Linked DNA regions of Homo sapiens: region 2 is linked to region 1. Evidence: fine-mapped expression QTL. A gene starts in region 1. The other region holds a variant in brackets. All regions are shown on one strand. Distances are from middle to middle.

What was found. PIP is the estimated chance that this variant, and not a neighbour inherited with it, causes the effect.
Region 2: its variant is fine-mapped to the expression of DHRS7B in fibroblasts (GTEx, PIP 0.94).

Annotation. Positions count from the first base shown.
Region 1 is chr17:21,123,366-21,131,757 of GRCh38, forward strand. It overlaps DHRS7B (dehydrogenase/reductase 7B), which reads left to right and starts at 3,599. Exons shown (of 7, transcript NM_015510.5): 1 at 3,599-3,626. The coding sequence starts at 3,607. RefSeq lists an enhancer at 3,261-3,920.
Region 2 is chr17:21,166,647-21,175,038 of GRCh38, forward strand. DHRS7B (dehydrogenase/reductase 7B) reads left to right here. Exons shown (of 7, transcript NM_015510.5): 2 at 5,372-5,550. Among named protein-coding and RNA genes, the nearest start is that of TMEM11, 43 kb to the right of the region's middle. The variant C/A (reference allele first, on the strand shown) is at 4,194.

The DNA.
Region 1 (8,392 bases):
CAACCCTTGATGCTGTTGCAGAAATCATAGGTTGTGACACCCACAGCATTCTCTCAACCATCTACACATTCCTCCAAGAGTAAGTATATTTTTTCCCCAAGATATAAGCCCTGGTTCTACGGGGCTACTGTGTGGAGATCCACCTGCCTTGTGGACACCCAAGACCATGCTTCTGTCTGTAAGCTCCCTCTAATAATTATCCTATATGGACAAACTGGATTTGTCTGCTTCCTACGTTTTCTCAGCTCCTTGGGCATTTGGGGGTGGCTTTGGGGGTGGCTTTGATGGAACACTCTCTCTGACATCACCCCAGGGAAGAGGATGAGTGCTTTCTTACAATTAAGTGGGGTAGAAGTCCAGGTTCTCCATATGGTTTCCACTGATACCATGCTGGGGGAGAGTCTCCTCACCTCTCAGTGGGAATGAAAATCCAGCCCTCGGCCGGGCGCGGTGGCTCACGCCTATAATCCCAGCACTTCAGGAGGCCGAGGTGGGTGGATCACAGGCTCAAGAGATCAAGACCATCCTGGCCAATATGGTGAAACCCCGTCTCTACTAAAAATACAAAAATTAGCCAGGCGTGGTGGCGTGAGCCTGTAATCCCAGCTACTCAGGAGGCTGAGGCAGGAGAATTGCTTGAACCCAGGAGGCAGAGGTTGCAGTGAGCCGAGATTGTGCCACTGCACTCCAGCTTGGGTGAGAGAACCAGACTCCGTCTCAAAAAAAAAAGAAAAAATAAAAAATAAAAATAAAAAGAAAATCCAGCCCTCCACTTGGCCTTCTCTGACACCATGCCAGGGAGAGGGGACAGTGGTGCCTCTTTACAGCCTAGCATGCGTGGCAGTCTAGGCTTTCCAAGAGGCAAGCATGGGGATGGGGCTTTTTCTGTGGTTTGGGCTGGATTAGAGCCATTATTGTGTAAACGTTTTCTGTCCTCTGAGGCTGCCCATTTCCTGGTCCTGTGGCTAGAGAGAGAAGGCTTTTCTTAGGGCATTGTCTTTGCCTGTCGGCATTTCCAGGTTGCTTGCTTCCTAGCACCCAGTCTGGGATATATAAGGCAACACCCACCATGTTGTTCCTTGCGTCCCAGGGTGGCTAGCTGGTTTGCCTTCTCTCCAACTTTTGGAGTCTTAGATTGTTTTATATATAATGCCCACAATTTTTAGTTGTACTTAGTAAAAGGAATAGGGAAAATTGTGTCTAGTTCATCTTCCTGGAAACAAAAATCTTCCATCTTGTTTTCATAGAAGGCCATGGAACTGTGCTAACCACTGGAATCTATTTGTTTTGTTTGTTTGTTTGAGATGGAGTCTCGCTGTGTTGCCCAGGCTGGAGTGCAGTGGCATGATCTCTGCTCACTGCAACCTCCACCTCCTGGTTTCAAGTGATTCTCCTTCCTCAGCCTCCTGAGTAGCTGGGACTACAGGTAAACGACACCATGCCTGGCTGATTTTTTTGTATTTTTAGTAGATGGGGTTTCCCCATGTTGGCCAGGCTGATCTCAAACTCCCGACCTCAGGTGATCCGCCTGCCTCAGCCTTCCAAAATGCTGGATTACAGGTGTGAGCCACTGCACCCGGCCCACTGGAATCCTTTTTGTATAATATCCTGGCTGCGAAGTTAGAGTTTTTACACTTGCATTTGGCAGATGCAATTCAAATTGGTTACCAAAACTTTGAAATATATTGAGTTGCTTCTAAAACAAATTCCATGCAGGATTGAAGAGTGGGTAGGCTAAGAGGGTAGCAGGCCTGGGAAATGAACCCCAGGAAACTGACTTAGTCATGCAATAAAGACTCAGGTGTTACCAGTGGAGAGTGTCCAGGTTCTTGGCGTTTTGAACAAACAATTGGACAAAACGCACAAACAAAGCAAGGAAAGAATGATGCAACAAAAGCAGAGATTTATTGAAAACAAAAGCACACTCCACAGGTTGGGAGCCTGCCTAGCAGGTGGCTCAAGAGCCCGGTTACAGAATTTTCTGGAGTTTAAATACCCTCTAGAGGGTTCCCGTTGGTTACTTGGTGTACACTCTATGTAAAAGAAGTAGTGGCCTGTGATCAGCCTGATTGGTTGCAAGAGGGGACCAATCAGAGGTACCTTCAATTTTTCATCTGCCAGGCAGAAAAGCGGGGCAGGTTGCAAAGGGACTAGCTTCTGTTCCTTTTGTTACCTGGGCATGGAAAGTTCGGGTTTTCCTTTTGATTTAGTTCTAGGAAGTCAGCGTGAATTGGCCTTAGGTTCCCTGTCTCCAGACCCTATTTTTCTGCCTTACGGTTCATATTGGGTTTGCTACAAGGATATTCAAACTTTGTGAATTGGCAAGCAGGAATCTAGAGTTTCCAGAACAATGGAGAGGGGCCAGAAAGGTATAAAAACTTTTGTGAAAACGTCAAAAATAAATATTTAGTTAAAAATAAAATTTCCCATTTTCAGATTTTGTGAATATCTGTAAGAATTTCCAGGATATATTAATTCGCTAAAGTTAATAAAAGCAAGAAACAGAAGGACGTTTCAGAATGCTATTGTTTGTGTAACAAGGGGGTGCTGAATACATACATAATTGCTTGGTTATGAATAAACTGGCTCTGGAAGGACACACATAGCTAATAGCATCGTTACCTAGGGGGAGGTGAAGTGGGTCCTGGAGAACAGAAAGGGAGATTTTCCACCTTACACACATTTGCCATCTTATGATTTTGAACGATAAGAGTCCCCCCGCCCCTTCCTTCCTCTGCCCTGCCCCTTCCTTCCTCTGCCCTTTACTCTCTCAATATCCTCTTTTCATGCTTTTTTTTTTTTTTTAAATCACTTCGGGTCCTTTAAAAAATTTACTTGCAAGAAGTACGTACATATTCTGAATAAAATTCATTTTCAGATATATGTATTACAAATATCTTGTCTGTTCTATTGTCTTTCCCTTTTCTCAATGGGGTCTTTTCGGTGTCTTATAGTTACAGACACCCAATTTATCAGCTTTTTCCTTTAGGACTGGCACTTTTTGTGTTCTGCTAACACGTTATTTTCCTCTCTTATGGTCATAATATTCTGCGATTTTATTGTCTAGAGTTGTATTGTTCACATTCAGGTCTACCATCCGTCTAGAATTATTTTACTTGAGATAGGAGTCAAGGTTCATTTCCCCCCAATCGACCTTCAATTGACCTAGCACTATATATTGAAAAAACTCTTCTTATTGCATTACAGTGGCTACTTGTAGGAGGAAAAAGTGACTACATAGCTGCAGGTCTGTTTCTGGTCTCTCTCTTTTTCATTCATTGTTTTTACCTTTGTGCCAGTTATCACACTGTTCTGATTACTGTGGCATTATAATCATCTTGATAACTGTATCGTGAATTCTCCAACTGTGTTCTTCGCCGGAAGTCCACGGAACACCAACCACGACCTTCGGAATTTCCCTCCGGAAGATGAAGGCACTGTAGTTATGCGGGTGGACCCTATCAGATCTCGGGTCCATCGGGTCCTGTGTACACCTTGAGGGACGCCCACCCAACGCGCATGCGCAGCCTCAATGCTGGGATTGGACGGAGCCTCGCCGGCTGCGTACACGTCACTTCCGAGGCGGGAGGATGAAGTTGATTGACTATGGTCTCTCCGGCTACCAGGTAGGGGCTGGGGAAGAAGGAACCTCCGAGATGAGGCGATAGGGTCTGGCCTTGAGCTGAGGCGACGCCCCGGCTTGGGTGAGGGGAAGCGGTGTAGTGGTCGAGCTAAGGCCGCGGGCCCTGGGCGGCTTCCGGATCCCCGCGACGCCGAACTCTGAAGGAAGACTCAGCCCAGGCGCTGGGACCAGAGCCCTGGCTCCGGCGAGTGCGTGGCGGGGAAACCCGCCTGTCGCCGAGGTGTCTTGAGTCCAGTTTCCGCTGCTGGGAATGGGTGTCGCGCCGGGCGCTGTGTGTGAAAGGCCTCGCGCCCACAGGGCTCCTGGCTTCAACCTGTTTATTCCCACATTTCTGCGCGACGTAGGGGAGGCTCCGCAGCGTCTGCGAGTGGCAGGACCGAGGGTTGAGCGCTGGGGGCCAGTGGCACCTTAGCCAGTGACGGCGAGTTAGGACTAGCAAAGGAAGTCCGGTTTTTCAGAAGGCAGGAGGAGGGTGCTGACTCGAGCGTCCACGGGAATGGCTGGTTGAGATATCTTGCTCTTCCAATACTTACTCTGCGGCTTCCTGGCTGTGCGGCTTTGGGCAAATGTTTTAAACTCTGAGTGTTTCTTCAGCTGTAACTTTGGGAGTAACAAGCCCACTCATAAGGTTGTTGTGAAGCGTAAATGAGACTGCGCGTGCAAGGTGCTCAGCTGGTGTCTGGCACATAGTAGGTATTCAACAAATGGTAGCCACATAATGCTCTTTTTTTCAGTTTCCAAACCTTCCATGTAGTGATTGGAGAATCGTGAAGTTACTTTTGAAGTAACGTTTGGGTTTCACACACTCATACATTTAGTAAGCAGAATTCTTGCTTACACTGTTGCCGATTGCAACGGTGTGTTTGCATAATGGAAGCTATGTTTGTGCCTTTGCCAAGGGTGTGGAATATGCCTTCCCTACCATGTACATGTCCCCTTTTCTCCATTCCTTAATAATAGTTGATATTTTTTGAGTGTTTGCTATGTTACAGGCACTGTACTAATCCCTTTACTGAATTATTCAATCCTGTAATAACCCTAATCATAGGAACTATAATTTTTATTTATGGAGGGAGAAATGGGCTTAGAGATGTTAAGAAGTTTATCCAAAGGCATAGAGCTATTAGCCAGGCAAGGTAGCACACGCCTGTAGTCCCAGCTATTTGTTGGGGCTGAGGCAAGTGGATTGCTTGAACCTGGGAGACAGGCTGCAGTGAGCCGAGATCACGCCATTGCATTCAAGTCTGGGTGACAAAGTGAGACCCTGTCTTGGCTGGGCGCAGTGGCTCACACATGTAATCCCAGCACTTTAGGAGGCTGAGGCGGGCGGATCACCTGAGGTCAGGAGTTCGAGACCAGCCTGGCCAACGTGGTGAAACCCCGTCTCTACTAAAAAATACAAAAATTGGCTGGGCGCGGTGGCTCACGCCTGTATTTCCAGCACTTTGGGAGGCCAAGGCGGGCGGATCACGAGGTCAGGACCTCGAGACCATCCTGGCTAACACGGTGAAACCCCGTCTCTACTAAAAAAATTCAAAAAAATTGGCTGGGCTTGGTGGCGGGCGTCTGTAGTCCCAGCTACTAGGGAGGCTGAGGCAGGAGAATGGCGTGCTCCGGATGGCGGAGCTTGCAGTGAGCCGAGATCCCGCCGCTGCACTCCAGCCTGGGCGACATAGTGAGACTCTGTCTCAAAACAAACAAACAAACAAAAATTAGCCGGGCGTGGTGGTGGGCGCCTGTAATCCCAGCTACTCGGGAGGCTTTGGCAGGAGAATCGCTTGAACCTGGGAGGCAGAGGTTGCAGTGAGCCGAGATGCCGCCACTGCATTCCAGCCTGGGCGACAAGAGCGAGGAGACTCCGTCTTAAAAAAAAAAAAAAAAAAAAAGTGACACCCTGTCTCAAACAACAACAACAACAACAACAAACAACAACAAAGGCATAGAGCTAGTAAAGGCCGATCCAATGCCATGTCACTCCAGAACCTAGCGCTTAGCTACAAATTTCATTCATTCCTTCAGATACTTATTGAACGTTTACAGTGTACCAGCATTGTGCTGGGTGTTGTGGATACAATGATGATCAAAACAGATAAAGCCCCTGTCTTTAAATTGCTTATAAATCTAGCAAGGGAGATAGTAAATATATAAATAAAACTAAATATTAATTACGATTGTGATGCATGCTGTGGAGGACAGTAGAGGGTGCTGTGAGGATACATAATGGAGTCACCGGCATGCGGAGGGGGAAATGAGGAGAGACAGGGAAGGCTTTCCCAAGAAAATAATATTTAGCTGAGACTTAAAGGACTGAGTTGGAGTTAAATTGGACAAAGAGCTAACAGGAGGAGGGAAGGGCATGTGTGAGGTCTTGAGACTAGGAGGAGCTTGTATCTTGTTACTTAAAGACCCCTGTGAGGCTGTAGGTGGTGGCTCACACCTATAATCCGAGCGCTTTGGGAGGCTGAGGTGGGAGGATCATGTGAGGCCAGGAGTTTGAGACTAGCCTGGGCAACATAGGGAGACCCCATTTCTACAAAAAATAAAAAATTATCTAGGCGTGCTGGTGTGTACCTGTTGTCCCAGTTACTCAGAAGGCTGAGTCAGGAGGATCACTTGAGCCCAGGAGTTTGCGGCTACAGTAAACTGTGATAATACTACGGCACTCCAGCCTGGGCAGCAGAGTAAGACCCTGACTCAAAAAAAAAAAAAAAAAAAAGAAAAAGAAAAAAATAAGCATTAAACCAGACTGGAATGTATTATGGATAATATGCTAATGCAGTTTCTTTCAGAAAAGAAATCCCACCACTTATTTGTATGCAGCTGAGCAGATACAACCCATTATGTAGTCTCAAGATTAATGGTAATTTGTCCTCTTATAAGAAGACTTGACAGCACCATTTGCTGTACATGTTTTCATAGTTCATTCTAAATTCACCTGGTAATTGGGTTGGTCATCTGTGCTACCTAGTTACTTTTTTCCAAAGGAAAACATGAAACAGCTCTATGATAAAACAAGTAGTTGAGGTGCCTAGGCTAAACTTCCACAGTGATAGGGATAGGGCTGGGGCATTGTCTTCCTGGATATTTCCATTTAAAATAGGGGGTTTGGCTGAGCACGGTGGCTCACGCCTGTAATCCCAGTACTTTGGGAGGCTGAGGAGGGCAGATCACCTGAGGTCAGGAGTTCGAGACCAGCCTGGCCAACATGGCGAACCCCGTCTCTATTAAAAATACAAAAATGTGTGGTGGCGTGTGCCTGTAATCCCAGCTACTCAGGAGGCTGAGGCAGGAGAATCGCTTGAACTGGGAAGCAGAGGTTGCAATGAGTCGAGATTGTGTCACTGTACTCCAGCCTGGGCTACAGAGTGAGACTCCACCTCAAAAAATAAATAAATAAATAAATAAATAAACTTACGTATGTATGTACGTACGTTTGTAAAGGGGGGGTTCCAGGCCCTTCAGAAAAACAGTCCTGGGTTTTACTGTATTTACTGGGTTTAAACAAGCTAAGCTAGGGGTAGTTTATTTAGCCTTTAAAAAGATTTGCATACATATCAAAGGGACAGAGGAATAATTTATAAATACTGGGTTTTTCAAAGAAATGCTGTGAGGAAAAGGAAGGAGAGAAGATCTCTTTCCCTTTGGAAACAGTGAAAATTCAGTTTTAAAATTTTTACTATATGTTTGCATGACAACTAAAAAAAAAATTTACTTACAGTACAGTAAAATGTTGGACTAGAGCAACATCCATAATGTTGGATGGTGTAGGAATTATTCATTCCCACCCCATTATACACATAAGAAACCTTTCTTTGGTAGCCAATGTTATTTTAATGCAAAAATGAACTCTCTATTCTGGAAGGCCATAAGCATGAGGGTGAAAATTGGGATTGAATGGTGTGTAAATTCAGTTTGAAAGCTTCTTGCCACCCACCCAGATAGGAAATACAACAAATTCCTTAGGATTTTACCTGAGCTCTCCCTCCTATCTTCTAAAGTTCCCAGTAACATGAGGCTTGGCCATTTAAACTGCTTAGTGGAGGGAGAGGTCTGTGATGGCCACTGAATTTGCTACTGGAGAAGAGTCTTGATCCAGACCTCAAGAGAGGGTTCTTGGATCTTGTGTAAGAAATAATTTGAGGCCAATCCATAGAGAAAAGTGAAAGCAAGTTTATTAGAAAAGTAAAGAAACAAGAGAATGGCTACTCCATAGGCAAAGCAGCCCTGAGGGCTGCTGGCTGGCCACTTTTATGGTCATTTCCTGATTATATGCTAAAGAAGGGGTGGATTATTCATGAATTTTCTAGGAAAGGGGTGGGTAATTCCCGGAACTGAGAGTTCCTCCCCTTCGTAGACTATATAGGGTAACTTCTTGACATTGCCATGGCATTTGTAAACTGTTATGGTGCTGGTAGGAGTGTCTTTTAGCGAGCTAATGCCTTATAATTAGCATATAATGAGCAGTGAGGATGACCAGAGGTCACTTTCATTGCCATTTTCCATTTGGTGGGTTTTGGCCGGCTTCTTTACCTCAGCCTGCTTTATCAGCAAGGTCTTTCTGACCTGTATCTTATGTGACCTCCTATCTCATCTTGTGATTTAGAATGCCTAACCTGCGAATGCAGCCCAGTAGGTCTCAGCCTTATTTTACCCAGCCTCTATTCAAAATAGAGTTGCTCTGGTTCAGATGACTGATAAATTGATTGAATATTGCTTACCAGTGGTTTGAGCTTCCTTGCTGTACTTAGC
Region 2 (8,392 bases), 43 kb after region 1:
CACCTTAAATAGAGCAGCTGATTAGAACTGGCCATTGGTTATAAAATAAAAGAGTACGTGTAGGTTTGTGGGAGCAGGATCCTAACTGCTTTAGCAATACTAAGCCACTCCTTGCCGTGTGATTTCAGTGTCTTTCCTTCCAGTTGGAACTCCTCTCTGCCCTTTAGCCTGATTTTCTTGTGTGTAACATGGCAAATTATTTCATGGCTAATCCTTCTTACAGACCTGAAATTGTTCTTTTTAAAAAAAACTTTGGTGGGTTTTGAGATCCCCTCCTTTGATTCTCAGATGTGGCTGTTAGTAGTTTAATTTCTGTATGTGGTTTCTGAGTAGCTTCCAACAACCTATTTTTGTTAACAGTTCTTTAAAAAAAAAAATGCTCGAGAGAAAGGAATCTTAGGAACGGATTCCGTCTGTGAAATGCAAGGGAGAATTTTGGCCAAAGTAGAAGGAATGGAATGGATGACATAAAGGGTGACATTTGTGCTCAGAGTTGATTTCTTGGTGATAGTCTCATGTCTAATTTGAGGTTCCAGAAGCCCTTTAAAGGGTGGATGAGCTGCACAAATGGATGTGAGGGAGTTACACAGTGGTGGGTTCAGCAGAAAGTAAAGGAGCAGCAGAATCACAGAGAGAAGCCCCGAACTCTGGCTGCCCGGGCCCAAGGAACCCTCACCCTTAGCGGGACTTTGCTACCTTTGCACTCTTTTAACCTGGGTCTAGAGCTCATGGATCTGGCAAGGGATGAAAATATAAGCAGACAGTATTAATATGTGAGCCCCTGAGCTCTCTCCCTTCCTCACGCCAGTTCGTGAGTCTCATCAGTGTGAGACTGTGTTTCAGGTCTCTTGCCCAAGGACTAAGAGTGTGACTATGACTGCACACATTCCATGTGTAGGTGGTGCCCTCTGCTTCCAGATGCCGTGTGCACTATGGTTTCTATTTGAGGGGCTCTCACCTTCTTTTTCTGGCTTCACTCTCTCTCCCCATGTCTCTGTCCTGCTTTCTGCCATGGCTCACAGTGGTGCTAGACAGACTCTGTCCCTTCTTTCTACAAGCTGATCTCCAAATGCTGAAAATCGTGAGCCAGATATTTTTTCCCAGTCCCTTTTTATACCATCAATCTTGCCTTCTCAGTCCATGATCTGGCTATATATCTGAAACTAGCAGTTAATAAGGATTTTGGTATAAAATGCATGATTGATAAATATATTAAAGTTTATACATATATATAAATCCTTCTTGTATGCCATTTTCAAAGAAAACAGGCCTCCCTTTGACCTTGCTTTATGTAGATTTATTTCCTAATCTGGAAATGTGGCCAGCTAGAACACTGTTCCTTTCTTCCACTGTGAAGCTGTCCTTTTAGCTGGTAGAAAGCCCTGGACACCACAGCAAGGTGGTGGGGCTTTCCATGGCTAGCTCTCATGGTCATCCTGACTTCCAAAGACAAGCTAGGAAAGTGTTGGCACAGCTGTCTCTAAGAACCCAAGAAGGCCCAGCAGTGTGGCCACATGCCCTGCATAGTGGAAGAACTATTAGGAGGGCTTTCAGAGTTTGAAAAACTCTGGAAAGAGTCGGGATTATCAATATGAACAACTTCATCTAGTCAGGAAAGTTATGCTGGAATTGAACCTGATTCTCAGATAAATGGCTCACTCTGGGGTGTCTTTTCCCACCATGGTCATTCTTTGTTAGCAGGGGAGAGTTGGCACTGGATTTTGTTTTTTGTTTGCTTTTGAGACAGGGCCTCACTTTGTCACCCAGGCTGGAGTGCAGTGGTGCAATCTTGGCTCACTGTAGCCTCAACTTCCTAGGCTCAAGCAATCCTCCCACCTCAGCCTCCCAAGAAGCTGGGACTACAGACGTGCACTACCATACCTGGTTAGTTTATGTGTTTTTTGTAGAGACGGGATTTCACCATGTTGCCCGGGCTGGTCTTGAATTCCCAGGCTGAAGCGATCCCCCTACCTCAGCCTCCCAAAGTGCTGGAATTACAGGCGCGAGGCACTGCGTTTGGCCTTGGCACTGGCTTTTAATTTGCTTTGCATTCTGATTCGATAGCACTTTACCAGACTGAATGCAGACATGCGCTCTCCCCACAGACAGCGGCCCGGGCCAAGGATGGATCCCATTCACCCGGCGCCATGTTTGCCTCAGGCAAAGTGGTCTCCAGGGCCAGGAGACCAAGGCTGGCCTGTGATGTTGTGTCAGGTGCTCAAGGAATCCCAGAAGTGTACAAGACGGTGTGTAGTTTTCGCTCTTTTCTTCATGTCATGGATTGCTGGCTTGAGTTTTAATTAGGTTGCATGAAAGTGCAATTTGTTGGGAACTTTAATCATCTTCCACTGGGGAGCCTTGCTGGGCTGGTTTATTTTCATCCTGCTCCTCCCTGGGTGTGAAGACGGGGTTGAGGGACATTTTAGTACCTGTCTGCTCTCTCCTGCTTTGCTGGCCTTGATAACCACATTTTCTAACACAAAACTTGGGACATGAGAGCCTGACTTCTGCCAATGTTGTGGAGTTTTTTCCTATTTGTTAATTTGATTAAACTGAAAGGTTTATGAAAATATAGAAGTTAAACAACATTGGACACTTAATACATTTAATGAGCTTCCTTTATTTGGAAAGAACCACACTTCACAAGCCAGGGGTCCCTTCAGACAGTCTTGGGAGTCGGATTGCTGGGAGGTGAGGTCCTGATCCAGGAACTTTGAGTTAATGGTGGTCATTATGATGCTGGTGGCAGCTGTGTTCCCTCTGTGTACAGATGAATTCATCCAACCTCATAACAAACCCAGGAGGGAGGTCCTCTCACAACTTCAGCTCAGAGGCGAGGACACTGAGGCCCAGGGCAGTGAGGCCCCTTTGCCAGGCTGCCAAGTGACTGGGCCAGGGTGTCACCCAAGCCAGGCTGGCTTGAGGGTTCATCCTCATGACCCCTGCACTGCCGCTGTTGTGCTGCAGTTAGTGTTTTTCAAGTGGTCTCTGAGTTTTGAGAAGCGACAGGCTGCATACTTGGCTCTTGACCCCCATGACCTCGGTGGCACTGTGCCTCAGCCCCAGGTTGTCAATTTGAAATTGGGTGGACTTCACAGGCACTGGCCTCCAGGGGCCCACGGAGGAGTGTTCGGAGGGGTTTCCACCCAACACGCCTAGTGGGGCTCTGGGTCCCGGCCCCAGAGGCTGAGCCCTACTATCCTTCCCTGAGCTGAGGCCCCCACCCCTTTCATACCTCAAGCTCATCCTGGGCAGTGGCTGGGCCCTGGGCCATTCTGGACAAGGCAGGGTGGTCCTACCCTGAGACCTACCTGGTACAAAGACCTGGGATTGCAGTGAGAAAAAAGCTTTTACCAAATAGCCATCCAGCCGGGTTGAACTCTTCCCAAGCCCCCACCCCTCAACCAGCTTATTACATGCAAGTTTTAAGCTATCCTTGCCTGGAGCCTTCTCTTGCCTTTTGTCAATTGCTGTAATTTTCTGGTAAAGCTATATCAACAAAATGGCAACCATTCCTGCCTCCCACTGTTTATCCCTCCTTCCCCTAGGAAACCCTCCCACATTCCCTGTTTTCAGGATCTTGGTCCCGTGCAGGACTCCAGGCAGCACCCACAGAACCCTGGAGTGGCACAGGCCTCGGTGCCTACTCTACAGCTTTCCTGAGCACTTCTCAGATTCCACACAAAGGGTCCTTGGGACCCAGCATAGCCTGCAGGCAAGAACACCTGGTCAGAACTTCCTCTTGGGGCAGGGATGGTACCAGTAGTGCCTGGTGAAAAGCTTGGTGCTTTAGATACCACCTTAATCCCCAGTTCATACAATGGAGGCTTGGCATAGTGTAGGGCAAGAGGGAGCTTTATCCATGCAGCAGATAGTAGCTGAGGTGTTTTCAGAGGTGGATTAAGTGGCAGTTGATGGGAAACTGTCATTTTTACAGTCCAAGAATGTGGCTGTTTTTTATGGTGGTTAAGAATTCAGGTGTATCTGGAAAAGCAGGTGAAAAAGTAAATGCTAATCTAGTTCAGTTGACAGTTCCGTTGCAGTAGAATCCTCTTGTAGGGGGCAATTTAGCATAGATCAGGACAGCCACCCTGAACATGAACTTCAGGATCAAAGCGACTTGGTGCATAGATGGATGTGTGTTGGGAGTCCACAGTGTTCCTGGCTTCACTCTGGCATCCAGAGTTGATGTC[C/A]TCTTACGAAAGGAAGCAGAATTTTTTTTTTATATGTGGGCTTGAGATGGGATATTAAGTAGGTGGCTGAGGGTTTTACATTATTGCTCCAAGCTTATGAATAATTTAGAGCTACAGTCTGGTTTGCCAGAACTCTCTTCTTGGATTCCAGCCTCTTCCTTCCTGAGAAGGATTCTGTGCTCGTAAACCACAGCCCTGGAGGTGGACTCGGGGGGGGCCTTTTGTCTCATAGACTCTGGCTCGCTCGTCAAGTGGCCTTCCAGGGCATTGCTTCCCAGCGACAGCACATGGTGCTCACCACGGTCCTCACCAGCTCCTCCTCAGCCTTCCTTTAACCCTGTGTCCCCCTCTTATCTCCTGCTTTGGGCACAGGAGGACAGGTGAATGCGGAGGAATGGGGGAGGTTCAGGGGAAATAAGGGCAGATGGGGAAAAACACACATTTTCTAAGAATCAACTGCACACTGTTGCACAGACACTCATACAGCCTCCAGATTTCATGGCTCACTGGGGAATGCTGGGCAGGAACATGCCACAGGCACAGCGGGGCAGCACGCTCACCGGCCGGAGCCCATGCTGGTGCTTGGGGCAGGGCCCTGCACTGAATCCCCTTTGGGTGTCTGTGAGGCCTGTGGTCAGAAGTCCATCTGTGGCCCTCACTGTAACAGTCTAGGGGCTGCTCCACCCAGAAACGTCCGTCCTCTGAGTGTCTGCTCTGAAGAGGATAAGAATTGGTACGACTTCCTTTTTCCTTTCCTCAAAAAACCCCTTTCTAGTTTCACAAGTATTCAGGGATTGAAAATGAAAACAGGCATTACTTGAGGTAAGGCCAACACAGGTTTCCGAAGGAGAGGCAGGTGAGTACTGACACACCACCTCTTCCTGTAACACTGTGGGTGACTATGTCCTAGGCTGAATGGCAATCTCCGCTTGTTCCCTGAGGGGCAGCATGAGGCCTGTGGCTTTTCTGTCCGCTCATGTCAGTACTGAGAGGAAGAAAGTTCTACAATGCTGAACAGTCGGCCGAGGGTGCAGGGCCTGGGTCAATGCTTGCTAGGGCTTAGAGCTGGAGTCCACAGAGGGAGATCTGGGATTCATATCAGATGAGAGGAAGAGCCTAGGAAAGTCCCCTGAACTCTGCTACTTTGTCACTGGTGTGTTTGGTTTTGGTTCTTCCAGGAAGAGTCTGCCGAAGGTGAAGGCCATGGACTTCATCACCTCCACAGCCATCCTGCCCCTGCTGTTCGGCTGCCTGGGCGTCTTCGGCCTCTTCCGGCTGCTGCAGTGGGTGCGCGGGAAGGCCTACCTGCGGAATGCTGTGGTGGTGATCACAGGCGCCACCTCAGGGCTGGGCAAAGGTGGGTCCTGGAGGCAGTGCTGCCAGGGGGCGGGGGTAAGTCAGCCAGGGATGAGGAGCGGCCCAGCTGCACAGGGACCACCAGCGCAAATGCCCGAAGCGGCAGCAGAAGGCCAGATAAGGGAAGTGGGCCGGATGGCACTGTCCTTGGTACAAGTGGAAAAAGCAGGAGCCAAGGCACAGTGAGAAATGACTCAGCGTCAGGGTGGGAGGCAAGTGTGAGAGAAGCAGCCTGGCCCCGGGGGTGGGGTGGGGTGGGGTGGGATGGGATACCTGCCCCTCACAGGGCAGCCCTGCTCAGCCTCAGTTGCTTGCTGAGGTAGGAATTTTATGTGAAATATCCCAATTTCCAAATATGGACAGCTAACTTAAAACGTGTTTTTACCTCTATGAGGACCAAATGAAACATGTCCTTTCCTAGATTCAGCCGGGGCCTCTGGTTCACAGCTTTGGTGCATGCTTTCTCTGGGCCTTGCCATCCCAGGCCAGGCCCCCAGCTGTCCCCTCAGCATGGTCTAGACAAGGTCAAAGACAGATAAATGGTGCCTCAGCTGTTCCAGGGTCTCCAATCTAGGTCCATTCCAACCCAGTGAACACCATGAGCTTCTAAGTCTCAGGAATGGTGTACCGGGACCCTGGCCTGGAGTGTCAAAACCTGGGTTCCCCCTTCTCCCATTTCTGGAAGCCTCTGAGTTACAGGGCTCCATTGTTTTCCTGCCACACACGTATATTGACTTGGCACGTTGCACATGCACACACCATACCATCTGCCATCCACGCTTACTCTGAGTTCCATGGAAGAAAGCTGAGGAGTTCCCTGAATTGTGGTGACCCCACCCGCTGCTACATCTTCTGGTTGGTGATAGCTCAGCTGGAGCTGATGGAGCACCTGCTAAAGTGGGAGGCTCTGGGTCAGGTTCTAGAACAAACAGATGAAAGACAGGGTCCCTTCCTTCAAGGAGGTCACGGTCGTCTGTTGTAAGGAGAAAGGCAAGGACTTATCTCAATATATTGCCATTGCAGTAACATATGCTCTCAAACCAGCCTGGTGGCAACAAGGCACATGTATATGTGCTGACTTGTGCTAAGCACTTTTACATGCATGATCTCACTGACTTCTCACAGCTAAGATTCAGAGAAGGAATGACTAGGACTTCCAGCCAGAAGGTACAAAACCTAGAGTCAAACCCACATCTCTGTCTCTAGAACTCACAGTCTCAAAGCTTCAGCAGGGGAGATGGCCAGGTAGAAGGAATAGGTGGGCTAGTAGACAGAACATTCCAGACAGGCCCAGAGGTAGGGGAGAAGCACGGTCCTGTAGGGACTTATACAGTTGGGTGTTGCATGAACACAGAGAGGCAGGTGGGTCTTTGTGGTGGAAGTGGCTTGCAGTTGGCCAGGGGTGGCCTGGGAAAGCTTTAGGGAGTATGGATTCATTTGTGCACCACTGTGGATGTTAGGTGAGGTCTCCAGGGGTGAACACCATATCTGTCATTGGATATCCAGACCTTTGCAGGGACAGCTGTCTGCAGGCCCTTTGCCATCGTCAGTCCTCTGACCTTACTCAGTTACTATATATAGGGTGGTCAGCAGCCACTTCTCTTGAGCTCAAAGAGAAGCATTTTGTGAAAGTCCTTGAAGAGCATTTGAGGGCTGGCAGAGGTGGAGCTCTGAGTCGCAAGTGCTCCCATCCATGCATGTTTGAGAAGCATGCTGTCATCTTCATTCTGCATCTCCTCTCCTGACACCAAGACTATGAAGGGAACAGAAAATGTCACGGAGGTCACCAGACCTGTCTATGTATCATAAGATGTCAGGCCCTTCCTGGATTCCAGTCACTGCTTATATTCTGCCCCATTTAACTTTTTGGGAACAAGAGTCCCTCCATCCAGATAAAGTAGGGCAGGTTCTTAACTGGCCATGTCAAGTACAGCCACTGTTGATGCCACCAAGGACGTTCTGATGTTGCCTTGCTTCTGTGAGGAGGCAGAGCTATGTTGTCCTCAGTGGCTCTGCCTGCCGTGTCAGCCACCCGGAAGGTTTGGAGTTATGCAACGAGTCTTCAGTTTTCCGTGTTTCTCCTATCTTGTCTCTTGTTTTGTGTACTTAAGCCTCTTGAGCTTGTCCTTGTAGAATAGTGTGGGACCACTGACTAAAGGAACAGAACGTTCTGGATATCTCCTTCCTCCAGCTTTAGCCACAGGGCTGTGCACAGCTCTGTTGATTTCCAGCCAGGCGTGCCAGCGGCACTGGACAGTCATCTGCAGCCCTTCATATATCGTACCTTGGAGTTGTTTTCCTTGGACCCTCCTACCTTCCAATATCAGCTTTTCAATAAATGAAAATGGAATCCTTCCAATCTGTTGTTTTCATTTCTGTCACTCCCTACACAAACTTTCATTTCCTCTCTTTTTAGCTTTGCTAGGAAGCAAAACTCAAACAGGTTTGAGGCAGTCATCTCCCCAAAGCTGTTTAGACTCCAGCGGGACTCCCACCTTTGAAGGGTTCTGTGTCTGCACCCTTTGGTGGCACCTCACAAATGTCCTATGTATTGGTCAGGACAAGACAAAATGGGGTGAGGAAGCCAGCAGGGCCCAAGGTTCCTAGCCTTTGGGAATGATTTATAAACCGGATGAGCAGTTCTAGCCTCAGGAATGCTGGCATCTGGCTTGGAGTGCAGCCATCACCCCCCTCATTCCTGTGGGGGCTCTGCTGCTCTGCTGAGAAGCGCACCAGGGAGGCAGGGTTGGGGCGCTGGGACCAGGCCTCACTACCCAGGGTGGGTGCTCTCTCCGGGCTTTTGCCCTTTGTTGGGATGAGCCAACGAACACACCAACCTCACC